Homo sapiens: one gene and its partners. The protein of the gene in region 1 purifies or fractionates together with the protein of each later gene. This does not show direct contact. Each region holds a gene or a part of one and is shown on either strand. Other genes may lie near its edges. The genes, in order: TTLL12, VPS4B and CRHBP.

Region 1 (3,653 bases):
TCTGGCCTCAAGACTTTACCCAAAACACACCCGAGGAAGGTGGCAGTCGGCTCAGGTTTCTCCCAGAAAAGAACAAGCCAGGAAAGGCCCCTATGGAAGCCCGCCATCCATGCCATGCTGGACGTACCTCCCCAGGCACAGAGCTCCAGGAGAGGACTCCCGGGATGACCCCCACAGTACAGAAGGGAGGGGCTCAGAACCTGAGGGCGACTTCCAACAATGTCCTGGGGCCCTGCTGGGGGGTCTGGGTCCTAGGGAGTAGGCTTCAACACAGGCAAGGATAAGACAGACAGAAGCAACAGGACCACTCGGCCCCTGTGGGGAGTGTGTGCTGGTATAGTCACCAGTGCATGGCAGGGCCCTTTCTCCAAGTCCTCCTAGAGGACTCCTCGGACATGGGCATGGCCAGGTGCCTCCACGCATGTTCACGCGCCATGATTTATCATTAGTGAAGACCTCAGATGACCAATCGCCGCCACAGTTAGCAACAAGCCCGAACCTCAAAACCTCAAAACACGCCACTCAGCCAACAAAGCAAGCTGCAGAAGGATCCGTTGAATAAGATGATATTTACATAAAAACCTAAGTAGGAGGCCGGGCATGGTGGCTCACGCCTGTAATCCCAGCACTTTAGGAGGCTGAGGCAGGCGGAGCGCTTGAGTCCAGGAGTTTCAGACAAGCCTGGGCAACATGGCGAAACCCCGTCTCTACTAAAAATACAAAAAAATTAGCCGGGCGTGGAGGCACGTGCCCGTAGTCCCAGCTACTTTAGGGGGCTGAGGCAGAAGGATGGCTTGGGCCCAGGAGATTGAGGTTGCAGTGAGCCCAGATCATGCCTCCGCACTCCAGCCTGGGTGACAGCGTGAGACATTGTCTCTCAAAAAAACAAAACAAAACAAAAAACCTAAGTAAGCAAAACAGCAGCTTGAATGGTCAGGAACATACTCCTGCTGAAAAGAACCAAAGACATGCCTGGGAATGACAGCCACACGTTCAGGGGTCGGGGAGCGTTGGGGCTGGCTGCATGGGGAGTCCGCGGCACCTGCAAGGCTGGCGACAGGCAGGGTGGGGTAGGTGTTCTGTGCATCTGAAACACTCATTAACCAGCCAGGCCACAGAGGCCTTCCAGGACTTCCTTTCTTCCTTCCTGTACCCAGAGCTGGCCTCCTGCTTCTGTGCAGGCTGTGCCTACCTGTCCACGTACACTGGCTGGCCAGCTCTGGTTTCTCGCCCCCACCTTGGAAGGGCCTTTGTCCAGATGCCCCTGAGCTCCAGGTGCTCAGATGGTGCAGCTGCCATTCACTGAGTGCCCACTGCATGGGGCACCGCTCAACACTGTGCACCAGGGAGGACAGGAGGTCCTAGACCCGGGCAGGGTCACGGGCCAGCAGCCAGCCGGACCAGGTGGGGCCTCCCCGCCCCCGCCTGCCCTGGCACTCACAGGGTGGTCTGCTTTTCCGGTTGAAGTGGTGGTGAGGAGTAAGCCCCGGCTGGGAACACACTGTCTCAACCTGCTGCTGGACCCATCCCCCTCTGTGTCCACATTATCTCAAACACAGCCAGTGGCCCTCTGTGCCGTGGGGAGACCTACCTGAGACAACACAGAACCCAGCCTGGCTCATGATGGCAGCGCTAACAATCGCCTTCCATAGCAGGAACTCAGGAGGCGGCTCCTGGGACTGGCCTGTGTGCCAGTCCTCCTAGGAGGCAGTGTGGGCGGGGTGGGGTCGGGTGTGCCCTGGCCTCTGTGTGAACCTGCTCTGCACCTCCCTCAGGCCCTACCTGCTTCAGCACCACATCCGGGTCATAGTTCATGACCGTGAAGTGCTTCTCGTAGTCATCCAGGTCGTTGAGTGCAAAGGCCCTGGAAGACAAGTGTGCAGACACATATGGGTTCTTGAGCGGCCTTGTCCCTGCGAGGGAGGTGCCACCCACTCAGCCTTCCCAACTAGGGGTTCAGGGCTCAGGGCAGGACCACCTGCTGCTCAGGCGGGAGCCTGTTCCCTTGTCTGTGTGGCTGGGGGAGCCCCACAGCCCCACTGAGCTGGGGTGGAGGTGAGTGAGGTGCTAGCTGTGAAGCCTCTGCAGGTCCATAAAAATGGCACCTGGTTCTCATGTTGGTGCCCATTTTACAAAGAATGTTCACATCCATTACTGTGGGCAACACCAGAACTCTGAGGTGGGCAGGGCAAGTCACCGCCAATTAACACCAAGGGAGATGGGCTCCAAGGGCCGCTAGCTGGGTGAGTGATGGAGGGTGCCTTCCAACAACATTTTCTGATTCCAAAAAGGGCCCATCACCCACCCGCTACCTCCACCCGGTCACCCAGCTCCCCGACCCTGGACCCAGCCGGCCCTCCACTTACCGGTTGGAGAACCGCAGCCAGAACACATCATACACGAACAACCGTAGGGGCCTCACTGACCGCAGCAGCACGATGTAGCGGATGTCGAACTTGACCTTTCCCACGTCTTCTCGAAGGAACAACACGGGACTTTCGATGTACTTGGACACAACCTGGAGGACACAGGTGCAAGCTCGCTGGTGGCCAGGACAGAGCCCCCTGGGGCTCCCGAGCACACAAAGCCACGCAGGGGGCACAGACATGGCTGCACTTTACTCCTCCTTCTGCCTTTTCAAACCTGCCTAAGTTGCTGCAAAGTCTTTTTTTTTTTTTTGAGACAGAGTTTTGTTCTGTTGCCCAAGCTGGAGTGCGGTGGCACAATGTTGGCTCACTGCAACCTCTGCCTCCCGGGTTCAAGCGATTCTCCTGCCTCAGCCTCCTGAGTAGCTGGGATTACAGGTGCCCGCCACCACCCCCAGCTAATTTCTGTATTTTTAGTAGAGAAGGGGTTTCTCCATGTTGGCCAGGCTGGTTTCGAACTCTTGACCTCAGGTGATCCGCCCACCTTGGCCTCCCAAAGTGCTGGGATTACAGGTGTGAGCCACCGCACCCTGAAGCAAAGTCTTTATATCCATTTTTAATTGAAATGAAATATAAATTCTCACCCATAATTCCATCCACCCCCATCCCATGGCCTGAAGTCTCCACGACAATCGTCCTCATGATGCATTTCCCGCCAGCCTCTGACTATGTACACAGTCCAGGCAGATCCTGTGTCCTGCAATCCCAATACTGCTTCTGGATGTCCCCTCACTATGAATCTTTACCACGGCTCTGAGAGGCTCCTTGTCCAGGCTCAGCCACCTCACCCTGCTGGGCAGCCATACCTGGCACACTATGTGGTAGGAACTTTGCGATTAGACGCACCCAGGACAGTTCTTTTTTTAAAGACTGGGTCTTGCTCTGTCGCCCAGGGCGGAGTGCAGTGACGCGATCACAGCTCACTGCAGCCTCAACCTCCCGGGCTCAAGTGATCCTCCTGCCTTAGCCTCCTGAGAAGCTGGGACTACAGGTGTGTGCCAACATGCCCAGATAATTTTTAAAGTTTTTTCCCTTGTAGAAACGAGGTCTCCCTATGTTGCTCAGGTTGGTTCCAAACTTCTGGGCTCAAGTGATCCTCCTCCACTTCCCAGAGTGCTGAGATTACAGGTGTAAGCCACCCTGCCCAGCCTGGACCTGTCCATAAGGACCATGATGCTCGGTCCCCTTAGCCCCACCTCTCACTGTCCAGCCAGGGCCCTGAGCCCT
Region 2 (3,653 bases), on another chromosome or scaffold:
CCTCATGATCCACCCGCCTCAGCCTCCGAGAGTGCTGGAATTACAGATGTGAGCCACCGTGCCCAGCCAAGATTTTTTTTTTTTTTAGTAAAAACTATATGTCAGGCCGGGTGTGGTGGCTCATGCCTGTAATCCCAGCACTTTGGGAAACCAAGGTAGGCAGATTGCCTGAGCTCAGGAGTTCAAAACCACCCTGGGCAACGTGGTGAAACCCTGTCTCTACTAAAATCCAAAAAAATTACCTGGCCATGGTGGCGCACACCTGTCTGTAGTCCCAGCTACTCGGGAAGCTGAGGTGGGAGAATCGCTTGAGCCCAGGAGGCGGAGGTTGCAGTGAGCCAAGATTGTGCCACTGCACTCCAGCTTGGGCAACAGAGTGAGACTCCATCTCAAAAAAAAATATATATATATATATATATGTGTGTGTGTGTGTATATATGTATATGTGTATATGTATATATGTATACACACACACATCTATCTATCTAATTTTTAAGTTGAAAATGAAACTTCAGTTCTAGGAAAGGTATACGGACTCTTCACTTTTCACTCTTCACAGTTCTGTATTACATTCATTTATTTTGTATGGTAAAAATTAGCACTTCAGTTTTTGCCACTTTTATCCCATTCACTTGATGATTTGCGCCAGCATTCTAGCTTACCATCCAGTACCAAGAAAGGAAATGTGCAGGGTATTTTTGAAAAATTGCCTTATTCTGCACCCATCTCTAGAGGCAACGGAAACTTTAAATTCTTTTCATTGTCACAGAGAGTTACCTGGAGAAAAAACAGTCTGCTCAGACCACTTAAATTATCCCTCATCGTTGCTTCTCTGTCTCCAAATACCGAAATTCTAAGAAAGCAAGCAAAATTATTGTTAATGAAACATAGTGTTTATTCTTTATAATATAGGATTGTTCTGGATGTATTCATTAAAGTGGACATTTTGTGTAATATATATCCTATAAGATTGTGAGGTAATTCTGTTTTGAATGTAGAGAATTACTGTGTCATCTCTACTCCTGTTTTATATTGTTAATCATTAGTCCCTTGATCAAGAGTTCAGAGTACAATTTTGTGGGAAACTGTAACCCTGTAGGACCTCTTTTTATTTCATGAATTCCAGACATAGGAACACTGTGGCCAAAATAACCCAAAAATGCACGAAAGATTCAGCCACTTCAAACTGGCTCCCAGGCTATTTTGATTTTATTTGTTTGTTTTTAATGTGTTCTGGATATTATCCCTTTAACCTAAATATATATGTTTAACCTTGGCACATACAGGCCCACTTAACTTAGTATCTGTTTCTTCTTGGAAATATCCTAATTTTCAATTAAATATATTCTTGATGTAATTTCTCTTTTAAGATTTGAGAAACGAATTTATATTCCCTTGCCGGAACCCCATGCCCGAGCAGCAATGTTTAAACTGCACCTAGGGACCACTCAGAACAGTCTCACGGAAGCAGACTTTCGGGAACTTGGGAGGAAAACAGATGGTTATTCAGGGGCAGATATAAGTATCATTGTACGTGATGCCCTTATGCAGCCTGTTAGGAAAGTACAGTCAGCTACTCATTTTAAAAAGGTAAGTCATTTTTATCTATCCTTTCCTATCTTTTTTTTTTTTTTTTGAGACAGTCTCACTCTGTTGCCCAGGCTGGAGTGCAGTGGCACTATCTGGGCTTGCTGCAACCTCCGCCTCCCGGGTTCAAGCAATTCTCATGCCTTAGCCTCCTGAGTAGCTGGAATTACAGGCGTGTGCCACCACGCCTGGCTAATTTTTTGTATTTTTAGTAGAGACAGGATTTCACCATGTTGGCCAGGCTGGTCTCGAACTCCTGACTCCAGGTGATCCACCCACCTCGGCCTCCCAAAGGCGTGAGCCACTGCGCCTGGCCCTTTTCCTGTATTTTTAAAATCAAGTTTCAAGACCGTCATTGGTTTGTCTTCAAAGAATTTGGGAGGATTTCAGTGTTGTATAATAATACCATAAGTGGGTTTACATAATAGACATATTTCTGTGTCACTGAAACAAGTTCTTTAATAAAGTTTATTTATTGGCCATTTTTGGCTGGGTGCAGTGCCCCATACCTGTAATCCCAGCACTTTAGGAGGCCGAGGTGGGCAGATCTCTTGAGCTCAGGAGAGACCAGCCTCAGGCAACATGGCAAAACCCCATCTCTGTAAAAAATACAAAAATTAGCTGGATGTGGTGGCACACTCCTGTAGTCCCAGCTACTTGGGAGGCTGAAGTGGGAGAATCTCTTGAGCCCAGGAGGTGGAGGTTGCAGTGAGCCGAGATTGCACCAGTGTACTCCAGCCTGGGTGACACAGTGAGACCCTGTCTTAAAAAAAGAAAAGGCCTTATTAATCATCCTAATGTGTTTTAAATTTTCCTATGAAATGATTTTTGAAGTATTTGTGTATTATTTTGATATAAGTATAGAAACTTAAATGTACAGATGTAAGGCTGCTTCTGACACATCTAGAATATTTTTGAGTAGAATCTGGTGCATTTATACCTCATAAAGTAAAAATAATAATAGCTAATATCTTTTAAATATTCACATGCCTGGCACTGTGTTCTGTCTTTTATCTTACTATTTCATTTGGTCTTCACAAAAATCAGCAAGAGAGGTACATGTAGCCAGCCACCTAATGGTGGTTAGTCTTGGACGTAGGTGCTAACACAGTAGCTAGAGTGGGACAGACATGTGATTTGCCTGGAGGTGAGGTGTGTTTCCAAATCTGAAATCTCAGCCATTCTGCTATCCTGCCCCTCCTGTGTTCTGTTTTGTCTGCAAGAACAAGTTAAGCATCTGTGGCTGAGATAAAGTTTTATAAGAAGGCTGTGGTCTTGAGATACCCAGTTTGAGTAACAATGAACTAGGTAATCTGGACCAACCCTTTTGCTGTGAACAACAGTATCCAGTATTACTCATGAACATACATGTGAAAAACTATTAGCAAACCTAATCTCATAATGTATGTCAAGACTAATATGACTAAGTCACATACGTATATTTATCATGTACCATAATAAGATTTTTTTAAGTTAACAAGCTTGAATTAAAATCTGAATTTGAAGCCTGGCACCATTTACTTGTTATACCTTTTTGAGCAAATTCTATTACTTCTTTAAAGCTCATTTTTATCATTTCTAAAATGGGGATGTGATAATGCTATTTTGAAGTCCTTTCCAATAATGAAGTGATATAATACTCATAAAACACCAGTCGTGGTACTTCAGATGCGTAGGGAATGTTACTCATCCACCCTTCTTCAGCCATTTCATTACTGAAGTACTGTTAAGTTTATGCCACAGCCATTATGTTTTTTCTTAAATTCTCTTTGCCATTTAGAAACTATAAATGCATAGGAACTCAGTCCTTTCCTACTGAGAGTTTGTCACTCAATTCTGCATATTACTGCCAGGGTGAGCTCACATGACGCTGAAGCCAGGTCCTTGTTAGTGGGATGAAGGTGACACAGCCAGATGAGTTTTATCTCTGCAGCTGGGGATCACCAGCTGCAGCAGACCTCTCAGCGGCTCCATCCTTTACTTCTTTTAAAGCTGATTATTTCAGTTAACAAGAAGAAGATTCCCTGTTTATTTTTTGCATTTACTAGTATTTTATTTCTAAAATA
Region 3 (3,617 bases), on another chromosome or scaffold:
ATGAAGAGATAGCCCATGCTTGTTCCACGGCCAGTACAAGGCACTCTCCCTTTCCTTGTGAGATGTGGTGGAAGGGGAGGGTTGTAGGGAGACTAGCCTTTGATCCGTCGCTACTTGGGCTTGGGGGAGATGCGGTTTTTCCTTTTGGTTCAGCTTTAGGAAGTTTGCATTAATTGGGCTTAGGTTCCCTGCCCCCAGACCCAGGTGTTTTCCTTTTGATCCAGCTTTGGGAAGTCAGCACAAATTGGCCTCAGTTTCCCTGCCACCAGGCCTTGGTGTTTTTCCTTGATTCAGCATGAATTGACCTTAAGTTCCCTGCCTCCAGACCCTATTCTCCTGCCTTAATTCTTTTCTTTCTTTATCATATTTCCATGAGCCCCTCCTGAGTTGTTCAGTGTTGAACTATTAAGGACCCTGCCCTTTACATTGGATTTTGTTAGGAATTAGTTCAAAATAATAAATAAATAATAAGTAAAGAAAATAGGACATGTTATAAAGATTAAAGTCCAGAGTAAGATCAGAAAAAGAATGACCTCCAAACTGTTTAATGAAAAATAAATTTGGCTGGGTGTGGTGGTTCATGCCTGTAATCCCAACACTTTGGGAGTCTGAAGCGGGCACATCACTTGAGGTCAGGAGTTTGAGACGAGCCTGGCTAACATGGTGAAACCCCATCTCTATTCAAATTCAAAAATTAGCCAGGTGTGGTGGCACACAACTGTAATCCCAGCTACTGGAGAGGCTGAGTTAGGAGAATTACTTGAACCTGGGAGGCAGAGGTTGCAGCGAGCCAAGATGGCACCACTGCACTCCAGCCTGGATGACAGAGCAAGATCCTGCCACAAAAAAAAGAAAGGAAAGGAAAAGAAAAAGAAATTTGGACCTCCTGGTAGAAGCTTAACTAGACTACCTGGTACTTATATTAAAATAATTATAGGGCTTTTATTTATTATGTCATCCATTTGACTTTTATCTCAATAACTCTATTGAACTGTTTACTTCATTTAAACCCAGGTATGTGTTTGAGTGGTACCCATTACACGAGGACAATGATAGCATTTCTTAAAATTTAAAAACACCTTATAGAGACAAAGTGAGGAAAAGAAAGATTGAGAAAACTAAAACAGCAGAAATGATTATTGTAGAGCAGATAAATCTTGCCTCAGGAATCAGCTTGGATAAACAAATAGAATAAATAAAAGGAAAGTAATTCTTAATAAAAGTAATATGAGTTTCAATATATAACCCATACAGAGGAGATATAAAAGTTGTCAGATCTTATATAAATAATGAATAAGATTGGATTTTTTTTTTTTTTGAGATGGAGTCTCACTTTGTTGCCCAGGCTGGGGTGCAGTGGTGTGATCTCGACCCACCACAACCACTGCCTCCCAGGTTCAAGCAATTCTTCTGCCTCAGCCTCCCGAGTAGCTGGGACTACAGGTGCGCACCACCATGCCTGGCTAATTTTTGTATTTTTAGTAGAGACGGGGTTTCACTATGTTGGCCAGGCTGGTCTCAAACTCCTGACCTCGTGATCCACCCACGTCGGCCTCCCAAAGTGCTGGGATTACAGGCATGAGCCACCGTGCCCAGCTGAATAAGATTGGATTTAAGAGAAGCAAGGATATCAGAAGCCATTTCATATAAATAGTACAGAAAAAATCAGAGAAAAGTTGTAAGTGGATAATAAAACAAAAACTAGTATGTTCAGTGTATGTCTATACGATGCAAATGATCTTTTTGTTTATGTATAAAACAGTTTTTGTATAAATTCAGAAAATGATAAACAGGTGTTTTTTTTTGTTTTTTTTTTTTTTGGTCTACATAAATGTCCCGCAGTACATTCCATCCTCTAGCCCCCACTAAATGCCCCTTGCAACCCTAGATCGGTGACAACCAAAAACTGCCACTGCAAATTTCCGACCTGTCCTTAGAGGGCCGTACTGTTTCCACTGCAATCCCTGAACCCGAGCAACTGTGCACACTCCAGACTGATTGCCTTTGCCTGCCTTTACTACTTAGGCTTTGCAGGCAAAAAAGGCCGAGGAGACATCTTCTTGCCTCTTTCCAGCTAGTTTTATTTTTTAATAGTGTTCTTGCACATGAGGAGAAAGACTGAATTCAATTGCACTATTCTATAACTAATTATAAGTTATAATAAAAATGAAACAAAAACATTTCAACTGATAGTAGATGCATGGTTTGGGTACATGAGAGGAAGATAGGTCTCCTTGCTTTCATTATGTTTAAGTGATCCCGTCATTTAAATGATGACTGTGTGGTTTCTAACCTGCTGGGAAACTTTTATCTTTTCCATCCATTATAGCCCAGATGAAAGTTGGCTGTGACAACACTGTGGTGCGCATGGTCTCCAGTGGAAAACACGTAAATCGTGTGACTTTTGAGTATCGTCAGCTGGAGCCGTACGAGCTGGAAAACCCAAATGGAAACAGTATCGGGGAATTCTGTTTGTCTGGTCTTTGAATAACCAACCCAGTGATTTACATGCTGATAGCTAAGTGAGTTTTTAATGGCCATTGTGTATGATTTTGATGCACAACTAGTTAAAAGCCTTTCATACCAGTCAGTATTCCCAGCCTTGAGCGCACGCGCGCACACACACACACACATACACACACGCATTAATTTTTGTACTTTGCTTCTTTTATGTTTGTAATCTGTAAATGAACACATGGCAGAAAATAACCCCTGATTGGTAGGATCATAGTTCTAAATGGAAATGTTTGTAATTCTTTGATGTGCTACAAACCTGAAACTGGTAAGACAAGCACAAAGCAACGTGCAATACAAAAATCGTATCTCAAGGGAAAATACTCAAAGAAAGAAAAGTGGCAGCACTTATATTAGTTTTATAACAGGATAAAGTCTTGTGTATAGCAAAGTAGTTGCATCTGTTTATTTTCTATTTATTATTGTTACAATAGGTAATAGTTATAGCAATTATTTATTGATTTGTAACAACTTGTTTTTAACCAAACTTTGTAGCATGGAAAAAATTTTCCATCCACAAATACAAACATGAATAAATACATTCAGAATGTTGGCACCATGATGTTGGGCTTTATTTGCTTTCCTGAGTAGTCCTCTTTCTTGTTACCATCAGAAAATAATGTTATCATGTGGTGCAGAGCCAAATGCTGAACTAAATCATTTTGGACTTCTCAGAGCTAGAACTCTGGGCCATTGAAGTAGAATTATTTAGAGGAGAGGTAGAATTGCAGTGTTTGCACAGGCAACACTAGCTGGTCCTGGCAGGGAAGCGGGTGCAGAGATTCATTTTCCGCTATCCTCAGAATACGTGTTTTTGTCACGATATACATTTCTACAAAGACAGCAAGGACCTTACAACAACTCTCATAGACACAATTTGCAGAAATCTGAATACTTCTTTGATACTGAAGGCAGTTTACTGTTGACTGAGCTTTGTTCCGTGTTTGGCTTAAAACTGAGTGTGTAGTATGTAAAAGACATCTTGGAGCAAAAAGGAAGGTTCTAAGCTACAAAGAAAATTCTTTTTTTTTTTTTTTTTTTTTTTTTTTTTTTTGAGACAGTCTTGGCTCTGTCACCTAGGCTGGAGTACAGTAATGTAATCT

What was found.
Region 2: the proteins of TTLL12 (region 1) and VPS4B fractionate together in Homo sapiens (co-fractionation; one large-scale study listed by BioGRID). This does not show direct contact.
Region 3: the proteins of TTLL12 (region 1) and CRHBP purify together in Homo sapiens (co-immunoprecipitation; one large-scale study listed by IntAct). This does not show direct contact.

The regions. Positions count from the first base shown.
Region 1 is NC_000022.11:43,170,037-43,173,689, forward strand, and holds part of TTLL12 (tubulin--tyrosine ligase-like protein 12), read right to left. Parts: intron 2,519-3,653; coding exon 2,367-2,518; intron 1,865-2,366; coding exon 1,783-1,864; intron 1-1,782. UniProt on the Homo sapiens protein: Negatively regulates post-translational modifications of tubulin, including detyrosination of the C-terminus and polyglutamylation of glutamate residues. Also, indirectly promotes histone H4 trimethylation at 'Lys-20' (H4K20me3).
Region 2 is NC_000018.10:63,394,971-63,398,623, reverse strand, and holds part of VPS4B (vacuolar protein sorting-associated protein 4B), read left to right. Parts: intron 1-1,370; coding exon 1,371-1,590; intron 1,591-3,653.
Region 3 is NC_000005.10:76,966,399-76,970,015, forward strand, and holds the end of CRHBP (corticotropin-releasing factor-binding protein), read left to right. Parts: intron 1-2,329; coding exon 2,330-2,487; 3' UTR 2,488-3,073; downstream 3,074-3,617. UniProt on the Homo sapiens protein: Binds CRF and inactivates it. May prevent inappropriate pituitary-adrenal stimulation in pregnancy.